Regions from separate parts of the Homo sapiens genome. Here region 1 is linked to region 2. The links come from fine-mapping of genetic effects on plasma protein levels. A gene starts in region 2. The other region holds a variant in brackets. All regions are shown on one strand. Distances are between the middles of the regions.

Region 1 (6,998 bases), 46 kb before region 2:
GGCTGGAGTGCAGTGGTACAATCTCAGCTCACTGCAACCTCCACCTCCTGGGTTCAAGTGATTCTCATGCCTCAGCCTTCCGAGTAGCTGGGATTACAGGCGCATGCTACCACACCTAGCCAATTTTTGTATTTTTAGTAGACACGGGGTTTCACCATGTTGGCCAGGCTGGTCTCAAACTCCTGACCTCAAGTGATCTGCCCGCCACGGCCTCCCAAAGTGCTAGGATTACAGGTGTGAGCCACTGCGCCCAACCACAAAATACTCTAAGTTGCTGGTAACAGACATAGTTGTTTAATGGATAAGTAAAGAAAATATATACATATCCCTAGAATTATAATAAGTCCAACAACTTTACCTCTTATTCACTACCTCATTCACACTGCTCAATAAATGTTTGTTGAATAAATTGAATTTATCTAAGCAAACACATGGTGCCTCATCTCTGAATCCTCTTTTTCTAGTTCAGAGACCACATCATAAAGTTTTCAGAGCTTTAATGCCCATCATGAATTATTAGGCACAGCATAATGTACATAATACAGTCCTTGCATGTAGCTTATGCTCTGTAATTGAATTCAGTCATTTTTCAATAAACACTGAGAATTATTATGTATCAGCCACTGTCTAGGCTCTGAGGACTTCCAGAGTTCTTACCTTAAAAAGAAACAAACGGCCGGGCACGGTGGCTCATGCTGGTAGTCCCATCACTTTGGGAGGCCTAGGCGGGCGGATCACAAGGTCACGGATGGAGACCATCCTGGTCAACATGGTGAAACCCCATCTCTACTCAAAATACAAAAATTAGCTGGGTGTGGTGGCATGTGCCTGTAGTCCCAGCTACTCAGGAGGCTGAGGCAGGAGAATCGATTAAACCCAGGGGGCAGAGATTGCAGGCGACAGAGCGAGACTCTATCTCAGAAAAAAAAAAAGGTAACAAACCTTACAACCAAGTGTGTGATTAATCCTAAAATAAAGTTCTCTGAGACCATAAAAAGGGCTGGACTTGAGCATGGGGAAGAGGGGGAAGCTTCAAAAAACTTCAAACTGAATATAAGGGATTGAATGGGAGTTTGCTAGATGGGAAATGCGAAGAGGCAACACAGGAGTAAAACATGGAATACTCCCAACTCTGGAGCTTAGAATGTATGTGGGAAAGTAGTAGTAGAGGGGCAGGTGAAACAGCCAGATTGTGAGGGGATCTCAGTGTCACATTGAGACATTTGGACTTGATATGGAAAGTCAGTAAAGGACGTAAAGCAGTTGATTGATGTGGATTTTCTTTTAGAAGGAGGGCATTAATGGCTAGACAGGACAAGAGAGAGCACAAGAATCTGGGTACAGGGGACTGTGTTAAGAGCCTTTTGGGCAGTCACCTTGCTAACGGGAATTTGTTTGACACAGGTTCTCACTCCTGTCTCCCGTCATCCAGGCTGGAGTGCAGTGGCACCATCACTGCTCACTGCAGCCTTGGCTTCCCGGGCTCAGGTGATCCTCCCACCTCAGCCTCCCGAGTAGCTGGGACCACAGGTGCATGGCACCAGGCCTGGCTAATTTTTTGTATTTTTAGTAAGGGTCTCCCATGTTATCCAGGCTGTTCTCGAATTCCTGGGCTTAAGTGATCCACCCACCTCAGCCTCTTAAAGTGCTGGGGTTACAGGGGTGAGCTACAGTTCCCGGCCCAAGAGTTGGTTTTGAGGCAGAAATTAACCAGCCTCAATGGATATGAGGAGTGAGGGAGAAAGGTTCCAGGGTGTCTGCATTTTTTCACTTGGTCAACTGGGTGAATGATGAACTTAAGTAAGAAACATAAGAGGAGAAGCAGAGTTTGGGTTGTGGATGAGAATATCAAAGGTACCTGTAGAACAGAGATCATGACATAATATAGCCTTACAAAATGTTTCTTCTTCTGCCATTAAAAATAACATACGGGGGCCAGGTGTGGTGGCTCGTGCCTGTAATCCCAACATTTTGGGAGGCTGAGGCAGGAGGATTGCATGAGGCCAAGAGTTGGAGACCAGCCTTGGCAACATGGTGAGACCTATCTCTACAAAAAAAAAAAAGCTGAGTAGTGTGGTGCTGCTCACTTGTAATCCCAGCTGCTCAGGAGGCTGAGGCAGGAGGATCACTTGAGTCTAGCAGTTTGAAGTTTTAGTGAGCTGTCATCACATCATTGCACTCCAACCTGGGTGACAGAGCAAGACTCCGTCTCAAAAAAAAAAAAAAAAATTATGAAGAAGTATGTGAATTGAGAGGCCATATAGTATAATATTTAACAGCAAGAATTCAAGAGCCAGATTGCCTGAGTTTAAATTCACCTTCTAGTAGCAGTGTGACCTTGGACAGGTTACTTTAACCCAATTAGTTTTTCCTGCCAAATGGGGATAAATCATAGTATCTACTTCACAGGGTTTTTGTGAGGAGTAAATGAGTTAATATATGTAAAGTCCTTAGAATACTGCCTGATAATAGAGCTACTAGCCATTTTATTTAAATGAAAATTAAGAATACCAGCCCTGTATACAACTATTCTTACCTTTTTTTTTCCAGAGTACTTATTTTCTGACATATTAGACACTTTCCACATTTATGATATTTACAGTATATTGTTTGTCTTCCTTTCACTAGGACAGTGGTTTCATTGTGGTCCATGAACCAGCTGCATCAGCATCATTTGGGAACTTGTTAGAAATGCAAATTCTCAGGCCCCACCCCAGACCTATTGAATCAGAAAGTTTTAACAAGCAGTGTGTTTTCACAGCCCTCCAGGGGGTTTCTGATGAAGGCTAAGTGTGAAAGCCACTGAGCTAGAATATAAGCTCAATGTTGTCTTTTTTTCACTGTGTTTCCTAAGTACCAGAACAGTGCCTAGCACAGACTAGGTGCTTCATAGATACCTATTGGATGATGGAATGTGTGAATTGTTGGAAAGAAAATATTGATATATGATTGTGATTTATTTCTATTCTGTTGTCCACATTTTCATTACTTTAAAAATGGGTATATTCCACCTATTAAAACAACAAAAACTGTATTTCTCCAAAGTACAGTCTCCATTCACTTTCTGCCTTTGAATGATACTAGAGACAATGTGTCCTGTTTTAGGAAGTTTTTGTGTAACTGTCCATTACCACTTACAATAATTATTAATCCATTTAATATTTCATTAAATACCTATGGCCATAATTTCTACTCTTGGTTTTACAACCTCTGAAGAGGTCTCTCCAATTACCTCAGAGTACTATAATGTGCTATAATTTCTTAATCTAATCAATGTTAAATGCCTGTGGTCATGATTTCTAGTTTTGGTTTTGTCATACCTGAAGACATCTCTCCATATGTCTTAACGTGTATCATAAAAATATTGAAAGTTTTCCATTTTAAATCATTTAGATCAGTATGTATAACACAAGACCCTATTATTTTCAGAGCCAGAAAAAATAGTCACTATGGAGTACTATAATCAGCTGGCCGATAAACACCAATTACTTACAGACTGTAGAATTTTAACTATTCTAACTCCTCATTTTTTTTGTTTGTTTGTTTTTTGTTTTTTGAGATGGAGTGTTGCTCTTTCACCCAGGCTGGAGTGCAGTGGCGCGATCTCGGCTCACTGCAACTTCTGCCTTCCGGGTTCACGCCATTCTTCTGCCTCAGCCTCCCGAGTAGCTGGGACTACAGGCGCCCACCACCACGCCGGGCTAAGTTTTTGTATTTTTAGTAGAGACAGGGTTTCACTGTGTCACCCAGGATGGTCTCGATCTCCTGACCTCGTGATCCGCCCGCCTCGGCCTCCCAAAGTGCAGGGATTACAGGCGTGAGCCACCGCGCCTGGCCTCTAACTCCTCATATTTTCTACTGAATTTGGTTTTTGCTCTTAGGTTCTTCCTAAGTATTTACTTTCAGAAACAATGGTGGTTTCTATTTATTGAGCCCTTATTATATTTGGCACTTGCTAAGTGAATGTTATGTGTATTATTTCTTTTAACCCTTTCAAACAACCCTTACAAGGTCAGTAGTCTTATAGTCCCTATTTGCAGATGAGGAAACAGGTTGGTTGAGAGGGATCTCTGTTGCTTTTAACTCTTGTATGGTGTGGGATCTAGTCAGCTGTCACGGTGTACAAATAAAGGGTGTAAGTCCTCCATTTTGCCACAGTGAGGCACCAAAAGCAAAGTAACCACATATTTATGAGCTGGTGAAACTGAAGTTGTTTCCACAACTTTAAAGGGCCAAGATTAGGCATTCTTGGGCTGGAAATTCAAATCCCCATAAGGAAGAGAGGCTGCCCACCTTGGTCAAACATTAAGGTAGGCTTTCTGTAGTGCTGTTTTTCAGAGCTGTCTGTTTCCATTTTACTCCATGTCAGCATCCACCCAGTTTCCCAAAGGAGACAGAGTTGGTCCCAGAGAGTCCCTCACATGTGACTGATTTGGGCAGGCTTGTGGGGTGGGGGATAGTGGTATTTGAAGTGGTTCATTCTTGTTCATGGTGCCCATTCTCCCCAGGATGCCACCTTGCTGTTTGTAGTTGATTGTAGCATCAATTCTAACTCCCTAAAAAGAGGAAGAGGTTTTTTGTTTTTTCAACAGATTTTACCAGTTGTTAAAGGCTATACTCTGGGAGCACAAAAATGCCCCTCAGTTGTATACAGTATACAGTTGTTTAATATACAGAAAAGCCTTGGACTGGGAGTCAGCACACTTGCATTCCAGAACTAGTGCTGCCATACATTTGCTGTTCCAATGACTGTGGGGCAGGCACTCAGTTTCTCCAGGGTCTAGTGTCCTCAGTGGTAAAGGCAGGAAGTTAGACTAGATGATCGCTGAGGTACATCCTAGCTCTAGCATTCATTGGTTTCATAATTCTGAGCCTAAAGAATTTTTAAAAAGCTGCTATTGATCCCTCTCAGTTGGGTAGAGATCAGTCTCTTGAATTATCTGCCTCCCTGGCTTTATCATCACAAGAAATGATTTCAAAGGTTTCTGTTTTGTTTTGTTTTAAATCTTAGAAGTCCAGAAAGGATCTCATAAATGTAGTGAAGTTCTGTAAAAGTATGTTGTTATAGAGCACTTATAAGAGGAAATGTGTTTTATGAAATCAGGTAGGAAATGGAATATTCTAGCACACAGAAGTTAGTGAAAGGAGAGAGGTTCTGTGGTCTTCTTCTCCCCCTTTCATTTATGTAGTTACATTCCTGGAATCATTCTAGAATTTGCCTCTTGAGAATGCGGATTTTCATACCCATTAACAAAGGAAGAATAAAGGAGGAGAATTTATGACTAAACACAGTTGTAGAAAAGTCTAGGAAAGGAAGGAGCTAGGAAGGGAATGTACATATGTGTACAGTACTGCTTCTTACTGTCTGGCTTGGATCAGGAGTGAGCATGCCTGAGTTTGGAGATGTGCTGACTCAGAGCAGTGATGATGCTCAGCACTTTTGGGACAGCTTATTACAAAATAATACAATACTGCTCCATGGAAGTAGCCGTTTTTGACTGTCGGTATTATTTCAGTACTGGTAGCTAAGAACACATCCCCCTCAGGAACAGTAATAGCTGCCTTGGTGCTCATTTCAGTTACATCATAGATGGTCAAGAGTCATACCATTTGCCATGGTGAACCTTCCTCTACCTTTTTTTAAACAACAAACAGCCATGGGTTTTGTGAGTGGTATGGAGAAAATTGTCTGAAGTATCTTGTGTATATTAAGGGGGTGGCACACAACAATGAATGAGACATAGTAAAGGGTGTGTTGTCATTTGCCCTTTCAGGCAGTAGCCACATCTAAGGAGGTTTATAGTTCTAGGATCTATGGCACAGTAAAAATGACAAAATAAATTTCCATGTTTCAGAGGAACTTGGTCTCAAGTTGAGATTATAGAATATACGCATCCAAAATGATTTATGGTCACTTAAAAAGTGGGATACAAGGACAGGTGTGGTGGCTCACACCTGTAGTCCCAACACTTTGGTAGGCTGAGGTCGAGGATTGCCTGAGCCCAGGAGTCAAGACCAGCTTAGGCAACATAGTGAGGCCCCATCTCTACCAAAAAAAAAATTAGCTGTGTGTGGTAACCTGCACCTGTAGTCTCAGTTACTTGGGAGGATGAGGCAGGAGAATTGCTTGAG[C/G]AGGTGGGAGGATTGCTTCAGCCTGGGAGGTCGAGGCTGCAGTGAGCCGTAATCATGCCACTTCACTCCAGCCTGAGTGAGACTGTCTCAAAAAAAAAAAAAAAAAAAGATATAACTGACATTAGATGCTGTTGTGATTAACAAAATGTAAATCCATATAAAGCATTACAGTGACATTACATCTTATGTAGGATTGGGTTCAAAAGTCAGGGCTTGGCCGGGTGCACTAGCTCACACCTGTTATCCCAGCACTTTGGGAGGCCGAGATGGGTGGACCACACAAGGCCAGCCTGGCCAACATGGTTAAACCCCCTCTCTACCAAAAAATAGAAAAATTATCTGGTTGTGGTGGTGCACTCCTGTAACCCCACCACTCAGGAGGCTGAGGCATGAGAATCACTTGAACCCAGGAGTTGGAGTTTGCAGTGAGCTGAGATGACGCCACGGCACTCCAGCCTGGGCAACAGAGTGAGACACAGTCTCAAAAAAAGCCAGGTCTTAAGATGAAAATCAGAGTAGACAAATCATCTAAGAAAATCTCAGGACAGCAACTGAATACCCACATGCCATTTCTCCATAAGCCCGGCTCATCTGTTCTCTTTTGCAGCGGAAAGGCTGAGGTGGATGGATCACTTGAGGTCAGGAGTTTGAGACCAGACTGGCCAACATGGCAAAACCCTGTCTTTATTAAAAATGTAAAAAAATTAGCCGGGCATGGTGGTGGGTGCCTGTAACCCCAGCTGCTCGGGAGGCTGAGGCAAGAGAATCGCTTGAACCTGGGAGGTGGAGGTTGCAGTGAACCGAGACCGAGCCACTGCACTCCAGCCTGGGAGACAGAGCAAGACTCTGTCTCAAGAAAAAAAAAA
Region 2 (9,150 bases):
GTGTGTGGCCAGGTGCAATGGCTCATGCCTATAATCCTAGCACTTTGGGAGGCTGAGGCAGGTGGATCACTTGAGGCTAGGAGTTCGAGACCAACCTGGCCAACATGGCAAAATTAAAAATACAAAAGTTAGCTGGGCATGGTGGTGCTTGCCTGTGGTCCCAGGTACTCAGAAGGCTGAGGCCGAGATTGCACCACTGCACTCCAGCCTGGGTGAAAGAGCGAGACTGTCTAAAAAAAAAAGTTTGTGTGAATATATGTTTTGAATTCTGTTAGGTATATACATAGGAATGGATTTGCTTGAGGACACAGTAACTATACATTTAACTTTGAGGATCTGCCAAACTGTTTTCCAAAGTGGCTGCAGTTTTACATTCACACCAGTAGTGTATGACAGGTCGAATCTTTTTACACCCTCACCAATACTTGGTATTGTCTATCTTTTTTATCATAGCCATCCTAGTGGGTGTGAAATGGTATTTCATTGTAGTTTTGTGGTTTTTTTTTTCCCCTGAGACAGAGTCTCACTCTGTTGCCCAGGCTGGAGTGCAGTGGTACAATCTCTGCTCACTGCAACCTCCACCTCCTAGGTTCAAGTGATTCTCCCACCTCAGCCTCCTGAGTAGCTGGGACTACAGGAGTGTGCCACCACATCCGGCTAATTTTTGTATTTTTTAGTAGAGACGGAGTTTCACCATGTTGATCAGGCTGGTTTGAACTCCTGACCTGAAATGATCTGCCCGCCTCAGCCTCCCAAAGTACTGGGATTACAGGTGTAAGCCGCCACACCCGGCCATTGTAGTTTTAAATTTGCATTTCCGTAATGACTAATGTGTTTACTGCCCATTTGTATAACTTCTTTGGAGAAGTGGCTAATTAAATCTATTGCTAATTTTTAAATTTGGTTGTCTTTTTACGGTTGTTATTTTATTTATGTTTGCCGAACACTAGAATCTTATCAGGTATATGATTTGCAAATATTTTGCCAATTCTATGGGCAGTCTTTTTACCTTTTCTCTTTTTTTTTTTTGGTTTTTCATTACATTGATGAAGTCTTTCCAGTTTCTTTTTTTTTTTTTTTTTTTTGAGATGGAGTTTTGCTCTCGTTGCCCAGGCTGGACTGCAATGGCACAATCTCGGCTCATCACAACCTCCGCCTCCCAGGTTCAAGCAATTCTCCTGCCTCAGCCTCCCGAGTAGTTGGGATTACAGGCATGCACCACCATGCCCGGCTAATTTTTTTTTGTATTTTTAGTAGAGATGGGGTTTCTCCATGTTGAGGCTGGTCTCGAACTCCTGACCTCAGGTGATCCGCCTGCCTCAGCCTCCCAAAGTGCTGGGATTACAGGCGTGAGCCACCGTGCCTGGCCCCCACTTTCTTAATAGTGCTCTTTGAAACATAGATGTATTTAATTTAGCTAAGTCAAGTTTAATTTTTGTCACTTATGATTTTGATGGGATAGCTAAGAAACCAATACCTAACCCAAGGTCGCAAAAATCCAGTCCTATGTTCTCTAACAGTTATATGGTTTCAGCATTACATTTAGGACTTTGGTCCATTTTGAGTTAATTTTCATATATGGTGTGAGATAGGGATTTTTTTTTTTTTAATGTGGATATCCAGTTATCCCAGCACCATTTACTGAAGACTATTCTTTCCTTACTGACTTGTGTTGGTCAAATAAAGACAGCCTTGTGAATGGACAATTTTAGGAAACCATCAGACCAGTCAAATGACAATTTTCTGGGGATGGTCTATGAGGAGTATCACCTCTGTTCTCCCTTTTGCAGTAACTGCCAGCCTCCTGGTTTCACTGTGATTGCAGGCTATCGGTTGTCCAGGCTACAGCTGATCTGGGAAAAGGCAGCATGGGAACAGGGCAAGTTAAAATGCCACAATTCTTAATGTTCTTACTGAGATTCAATGTTTTTCTTGAATAAATGCTCCCCAGATTGCTGCAAGCCTTTGGTTAATTTCCAGAGTTCTGAAAAAGCTGATTCTGATCATTTTTGCCAATGTTCTTGATATGGTTTGGCTCTGTGTTCCCATCCAAATCTCATGTTGAATTTTAATCCCCAATGTTGGAGGTCTGGCCTGGTGGGAGGTGATTGGATCATGGGGGTTGTTCCTAATGGTTCAGCACCATCTCCCTAGTGCTGTCTCATGATAGAGTTCTCATGAGATCCGGTTAAAAGTGTGTATCACCTCCCTCTTCGCTGTCTTCCTCCTGCTCCTGCCATATAAGACGTGCTTGCTTCCCCTTCACCTTCCGCCATGATTATAATTCTCCTGGGGCCTCCCCAGAAGCAGAAGCCTGTATGTCCTGCAGAACCATGAGTCAATTAAACCTCTTTTCTTTTTAAATTACCCAGTCTCAGGTATGTCTTTACAAAAGTACAAGAACAGACTAATACAGTTCTCATTCCTTTTTTGGAGGTCCTATGCCACCATTTTCAATGGTGTCACTATACAGTATTTTAAAACAACACAGATTTCCCATTAAAGTGCAAATTTCTGGCTTTTCTTGAAAAACTGGAGAAAAGAGTACAAGGCCCACTCCTTCTCACATGGTAACAGGTGGCTAGAATTCACAAATTACCATGGTTCTCAGAGCTAACCAAAATCGAGTGCAGATATACTGCTCCTCAGCCTTGCCAGAGCAATGCCTTTTCATTTCTCTTAGGCCCTCTTAAGCCCAGGAGTTCGGGACCAGCCTGGGCAACATAGTGAGACCCCGGCTCTACAAAAGAAAAAAAAATTATCCAGGCATACTGGCATGTGTCTGTAGTCCCAGCTACTCAAGAGGCTAAAGTGGGAGGATCGCTTGAGTCCAGGAGGTTGAGATTGCAGTAGGCTGTGACTATGCCACTGCACTCCAGCCTGAGTGACAGAGTGAGACCCTCTCTCAAAGAAAAATAAAAGGTGGCTGGGAGCAGTGGCTCACTCTTGTAATCCCAGCACTTTGGGAGGCCTAGATGGGCAGATCACCTGAGGTCAGGAGTTCGAGATCAGCCTGGCCAACATGGTGAAACCCCATCTCTACTAAAAATACAAAAATTAGTCAGGCGCAGTGGCAGGCACCTGTAATCCCAGCTACTTTGGAGGTTGAGGCAGGAGAATTGCTTGAACCCGGGAGGCGGAGGTTGCAGTGAGCCAAGATCGCATCACTGTACTCCAGCCTGGTGACAGAGCGAGACTCCGTCTCAAAAAAAAAAAAAAAAAAAAAAAAAAGGTTACCTGAGAGTACTGTTGAGTGTCCTTACTAAGCCCAAGGAAATAAAACAAGCCCAGACACTAAGTCAAATACATTCATTCGAGAGAAAACAGGAAATTTAACTCATGCTATGGTAACACCGGCAGCCTGTGACATCAGAGCAAAGGCAAGGAACAAAGGGATTGTGAAAGTTACCTTTCCATGAGTCTCTCCTTTGAAATTTGATCCATGCTGTTTATTTGAAAGTGTTCAAAACACTCAAGTTATTTTGGTACTGTTTAGGAACAGAGCAACTGAAATGTCTCTTGGTACTTTTCTCCAATATATTCCAGGAGATTAGCCAAAACCACATGCTAGAAATCTGCTGAGAGCCACAGTTTTATTTAATAGGCTATGAGATTCTATTTCAGACTGCTGGTGATACTGAGCTACCAGTCAGCTACACAGTAAGGATATAATTGTACAATTAAATATATTTGAGAAAAAAAGTCAAAGGGAAGGCCATATAAACTGAAGCCTCACCATCACTTTAGGTTGGAGTTTAAAGAGGGAGTAATATTTACAGGAGAATGGCTTCCCCTGGGTTGGAGTGGAAAAATACCAAGAGCTGTGACAGGAAAGGAAGTCTACAAAGCATGAGTAAGAGAAGCTGCTACAAATGTGCCCTTCCCCCTCATTCAGCAGCCTCAGCTGATTGTTATAGAGGTCTCCTCCAGAAGAGGCTGAAACCGCTTCTTGTCAGGAATCTCTTAAGGCAGAACCTACAGACGGTAGAGCAATTTGAGCAATGCTTGGCCGAGTTCAGATGGACTGCAGAGATGTCTCCAGGATTTAAAAACAGTGATAACCAGAGATTGTCGTCTTCAGTGTAAAATGATTCTTTTAAAAAGGCAGTGTGTACAAGCTATTTTAAGAGACAGTATGCTCATTTATGGGCGGGAATAAAAACTTCCTCCCATTAGTTAACTTGCCACACATTAAAAGAAGACTAAATCTTAGCAGTTTGTCTTTAATCTTCAGTGGTGAACTTGGAGAGTTATTAAAATGACTAAGAGAGGCCTTAGTAAAGAAGAAACTGCAATTATTTAATAAACAAGGTTCGAATATTGAATCCATGTCACCATATCCATATGTAGGTGGAGGTATATGAAGGACACCTCAACTCAAGGCTGTTTCAGTGACTTCATTATTCCTCTGGCTTTTGGAAGGAGATGACTTCACTTGGAATGGACTTATGACCAGCAGAGAAGAGTTCAGAGCAACAGTGGGGAGTTAACTTAGATTATGTGTTATTATCTCCATAATCTCCGTGCTGCCTCACATTTTGCACTTATGTCACCAGAAAAGATATGTGAATGATCCAAACATGAACAGAGCAAATGGCCTTGAACAGAGTCTAGAAACATTTAGATTGGATATAAAGAAGAACCTTCCTGCCATAAAGGTATTTATTTATTTATTTGAGATGGAGTCTCATTCTGTCACCCAGGCTGGAGTGCAGTGGCACAATCACTGCAACCTTTGCCTCCCAGGTTCAAGCAATTCTTCTGTCTCAGGCTCCTGAGTAGCTGGGACTACAGGTGCATGCCACTATGCCTGACTAATTTTTGTATTTTTAGTAGAGAAGGGATTTCGCCATATTGGTCAGGCTGGTCTCGAACTCCTGACCTCAGGTGATCCACCCACCTTGGCCTCCCAAAGTGCTGGGATTACAGGCATGAGCCACCGCACCCTGCTTATAAAGGTATTCAAATTTGGTGCTGTTACTAAGAGAAGGGTTCTCCCTTACTATGGAAATGGCATTTATAGCTGGGCACAGTGGCTCACACCTATAATCTCAGCACTTTGGGAAGCTGAGGTGGGCGGATCACCTGAGGTCAGGAGTTCAAGACCAGCCTGACCAACATGGTGAAACCCCGTGTCTACTAAAAATACAAAATTAGCCAGGTGTGGTGGCACGCACCTGTAATTCCAGCTACTTGGGAGGAGAATTGCTTGAACCCAGAAGGTGGAGGTTGCAATGAGCCAATATTGCATCACTGCACTCCAGCCTGGGTGATGGAATAAGACTCCATCTCAAAAAAAGAAAAAAAAAAAGAACACGGAAAATATAGATCTAAGCCTATTAGTTCTATATAAGATCAGTGAGCCTATAAGACCTATATTACTGCTTCCAGTAATAAAGATATTAACCCTAGAGAGGAAATAATTTGAAGACAGAAAACTGGCGAGACTGATAAATCATAAGCATCTCAAGATGGAGTTAGGAAAATGGAATTTTAAGGGGAAAGGTTGACTGTGCAGTTGAAGCTGGAGCTAGTGTTCTTAGCATCACTTGCATTCCCTGACAGCTGTTCAGACCTTGCCTCACTCTACCTCCTTGCCTTCCAACACACTCTTTATTGCAAGAAGACTTTCCCTGATGACTCCTTGATCTTAAGCCGCAGACGGAATCCAAAGGAGGATGCGGGATGTGGCAGACTGTTCCCAAACACAAAGCTGTGTAGTCCCTGGATGTCAGAGAAAAGACTCTGAAGTGGTCTATTACTAGTCCTGCACTAATATCTAAAAATCTAACCACTTACCCAAACTGGAGAGCCTTTTCATCAAGCCAGCTTCTCTTATGGCAGCGGGACCATGCTCCACTCCTTTTCTTTTCTGTCAGTCACACAAATTACACAATTAGAGGTAGAGAAGGTGTCGGAAAAAAACCCATTTGGTACATTTAGTTCCCAGCAGGTTCCTCTGAAAACCTGTGACAGCATCAGCCCTTCCATCAATGACTGTCCTTCCAACTCCATTGTTGGAATCACATCAGCTGCCCAAGCCAAGACGGGAGAGGCTGAGCCAGGTTAGGATCCAGGAGCTAGGCGTGTGTGGGGCTGGCTCGGGCCAGAGACTGGGCTTCTGGGCTTCGAGATGACTGAGCGCTCCCGACTGCAGGTTTCCTTCATTGAAGAGAACAAAACAGCTCCTCCCCACCTCCCGCGCTGGAGAGGCCAGCTCCAATTTCCCTCCCAGTTAATGCTCATTCTGAGTGAATGGATCCAGAAGACTTAAATCCTCGGTCGCTCCTTTTAACCTCCTCCATCGATTCTCCACTGGGGATTCTGACCAGTTTCGCCTCCTCCAGCCCCTCCAAGGAATCCTCTTCCTCATTCTCTCCCCTCCATTACCCCAAGCTGCATCCACCGTTTTCTCGGTCTTTCTGGGGAGGCCGCAGAAACACACCCTCATCCCAAACAGGGTGCCCTCCACCCCTCCCTCCCTCCCTCTCCATTCTCTGTCGGAGGATATCCCACATGCTCCCACGGTGCCCAGTAGCGGGAACCGGCCAGCTCTTCCCCTCGCCATTTCTCCCCATCCTCTCCTCGCCTCCCGGTCCCCCGCACCCTACCGCCGCTGTCTCCAGGTTCTAGGGGGCGGAGGATCCTGCCCGGCGGTTCCAGGTGCCAGTTCTCACCTGCCCTTGTGAGAACGGGGCTCCTATCACAGCCACGGAGTGGACGGATTTCTTCAGGATGGAATGCACTCGCGTCTGGAGGAGACGCGAGAGGCTGCCCCTTAGGGACATGATCCGCAGCACTGAGAATCTCCAAGGCAGAGGCTCCGCGCGGTTGGAAGCCGGGAGTGAGCGCCACCGCCCGCCGCTGCTCTTACCTACCCGCGCCAGCGTCCGCCCGCCCCGTGACGTCACCGCCACATTGGCCCCGCCGCCCGCGCCTCCAACCAGCCCCCGGCACACCTTCTTCGCAGGCCCCGCCCACCGCTCTGCAAGGCTGGGACGTGCCTTCGATGACGTCACCCCACTCTGGCCTGTGCTCTCCGGCCAGGGACATGCCCCTGCCGCTGACGCCAGAAGGCCAATATCCGGGTCTGGCCAGTAAGAGCGCGGTGACCAACAGGTGTGTCCCTTCGCGGGAGGCGGCCGGCCCATGCCAGGTTCCTGAACTTGGCGGAACGCAGGAGCCGACACCAATCTTCACGCCCGGCTGATGCTGACTCTACGGATGGGCTGGCTGGGTCGGGCCTGGTCTGGCCCTGCCTAGTCAAAGCCAGGATCCACCTGCTTCGTTCTATCTCAAAGCTCAAAGCCCAGGAAACACTCTTAGACTGGGCATCAGTGAAATTTGGATTCGGAGATATAATATAGATGAGAGCTCTCTGAGCCGGGCACGTTTATAAAGAGCCATCTACCTTAGGTATTTTGAATGAAAGAGGTTAGGATTTACAAAGCAATTACCTTTTAGATGTTTTTAATTCTTTACCTGAATAACGGGAGCGCTGGTTATTAAAAAAGCAAATATAGCAACGTATTTAGACTATTTCTAAGCTAAAGAGCTGTAAGTGCTAAGTAACTAGAGTTTTAATAACGAATAATAATTTAATAATCTCAGCATTCCAAGAACTTTACCCCTCCAATTCTATACCACAGGTTACTTTTTAAAGCGAAGAAAAGATCAAAGACATAAGTAATTTTCCCAGAGCCACATAGCTTGTAAGTGGCAGAGCTGACTCCACATTCCAAGTTCTTAACCAAGACACCATGGCATGCAAGAATCTAGACATTATTTCTACCAAATTAATTTTTTACATAAACTCCTGAAATTTATTTCACCTCATGTCAATTTACACACTGCTCTCCAAAACAGTTCAGAGGTCTCCATGGCAACACCATAACTCCAAAGGAGTTTTAGTACCCTAAGACATTTTATTTTTAGAGGCTCTGTTGTATATTGTCTCCCCCTGCTGGTTTAACAATGATGTCTTTGAGGCCTTAGCAAAATAACCACTGTAAGGCAGTGGTTCTGAAAGTGTGGTCCCAGACCAGCAGCATCAGCATCACCTGGATACAGCATCAAGAAGAAACTGGCTGCACATGGTGACTCACACCTGTAATTCCAACACTTTGGGAGGCCAAGGCAGGAGGATCTCCTGAGCCCAGGAGTTTGAGACCAGCCTGGGCAGCATAGTGAGACGCTGACTCTACCAGAAATTTAAAAAAAAAAAAATAGCTGGATGTGGTGGCATGTGCCTATGGCCCCAGCTACTTGGGAGGCTAAAGTGGGAGAATCTCTTGAGCCCAGGAAGTCGAGGCTTCAGTGAGCCATGATCACACCACTGCATCTCAGCCTGAGTGACAGAGTGAGACCCTATCTCAAAAAAATAAAAATAAAAAGCAGCAAGAAACTTCTTGCTTCTTGAGCACCTGCTATGGGTCACCAGATACTTGTTAGAAGTGCAAATTCTTGGGCCCCACTCGCGAATTTACAGAATCAGTAACTCTAGGGGTAGGGCACCGGTAACCTATGTTTTAACAAGCCCTCCAGGAATGGGTGGGGGCGTGGTCAGGGATTCACAGTCACAGATACTGTCATACTTGTTCAGTTCATTGAAATTATGTTGATACTTTTGTATTTCTTGCCCATCACTACATTCAATTTTTTTCCCCCTTTACTAAATGTTTTCTGAAGTTGATACTGGCACAGGTTGCCTCAGGGCTTCCTGTGCTACTGCAAAAACCTCTTGCTTCCGCTGGGCGCGGTGGCTCACACCTGTAAAACCAGCATTTTGGGAGGCCGAGGCAGGTGGATCACCTGAGGTCAGGAGTTTGAGACCAGCCTGACCAACATGGAGAAACTCCTGTCTCTCCTAAAAATACAAAAAGCTGGGCATGGTGGCGGGCACCTGTAATCCCAACTACTCAGGAGTCTGAGGCAGGAGAATTGCTTGAACCTGGGAGGCGGAGATTGCGGTGAGCCAAGATTGTGCCATTACACTCCAGCCTGGGCACCAAGAGCAAAACTCTGTCTCAAAAACAAACAAACAAACAACAAAAAACCTCTTGCTTCTTGAGCATTTACTGTGGATCACCAGACCGACCTTTCCAAAGTGCTACTTTAATCCTGCATGTCATTTTCAGTGGTTTTCCACTA

What was found. PIP is the posterior inclusion probability: the model's chance that the variant is causal. Protein levels are from antibody-based Olink assays in UK Biobank. Linkage for the fine-mapping came from a reference panel and not from the study's own genotypes, which makes the PIPs less certain.
Region 1: its variant is fine-mapped to the plasma level of the ARG2 protein (UK Biobank, PIP 0.92).

What each region holds. Positions count from the first base shown.
Region 1 is chr14:67,664,502-67,671,499 of GRCh38, reverse strand. The region is part of intron 1 of VTI1B (vesicle transport through interaction with t-SNAREs 1B); the gene reads left to right. It also overlaps a transcript of GPHN not described here. Among named protein-coding and RNA genes, the nearest start is that of VTI1B, 6.6 kb to the left of the region's middle. RefSeq lists silencers at 2,656-2,705, 2,716-2,845. The variant C/G (reference allele first, on the strand shown) is at 6,133.
Region 2 is chr14:67,617,616-67,626,765 of GRCh38, reverse strand. It overlaps ARG2 (arginase 2), which reads right to left and starts at 6,846. Exons shown (of 8, transcript NM_001172.4): 1 at 6,678-6,846; 2 at 5,800-5,872. The coding sequence starts at 6,788. LOC124903331 (a long non-coding RNA gene) reads left to right here. Exons shown (of 2, transcript XR_007064218.1): 2 at 1-899. It also overlaps a transcript of GPHN not described here. RefSeq lists a silencer at 6,847-6,916.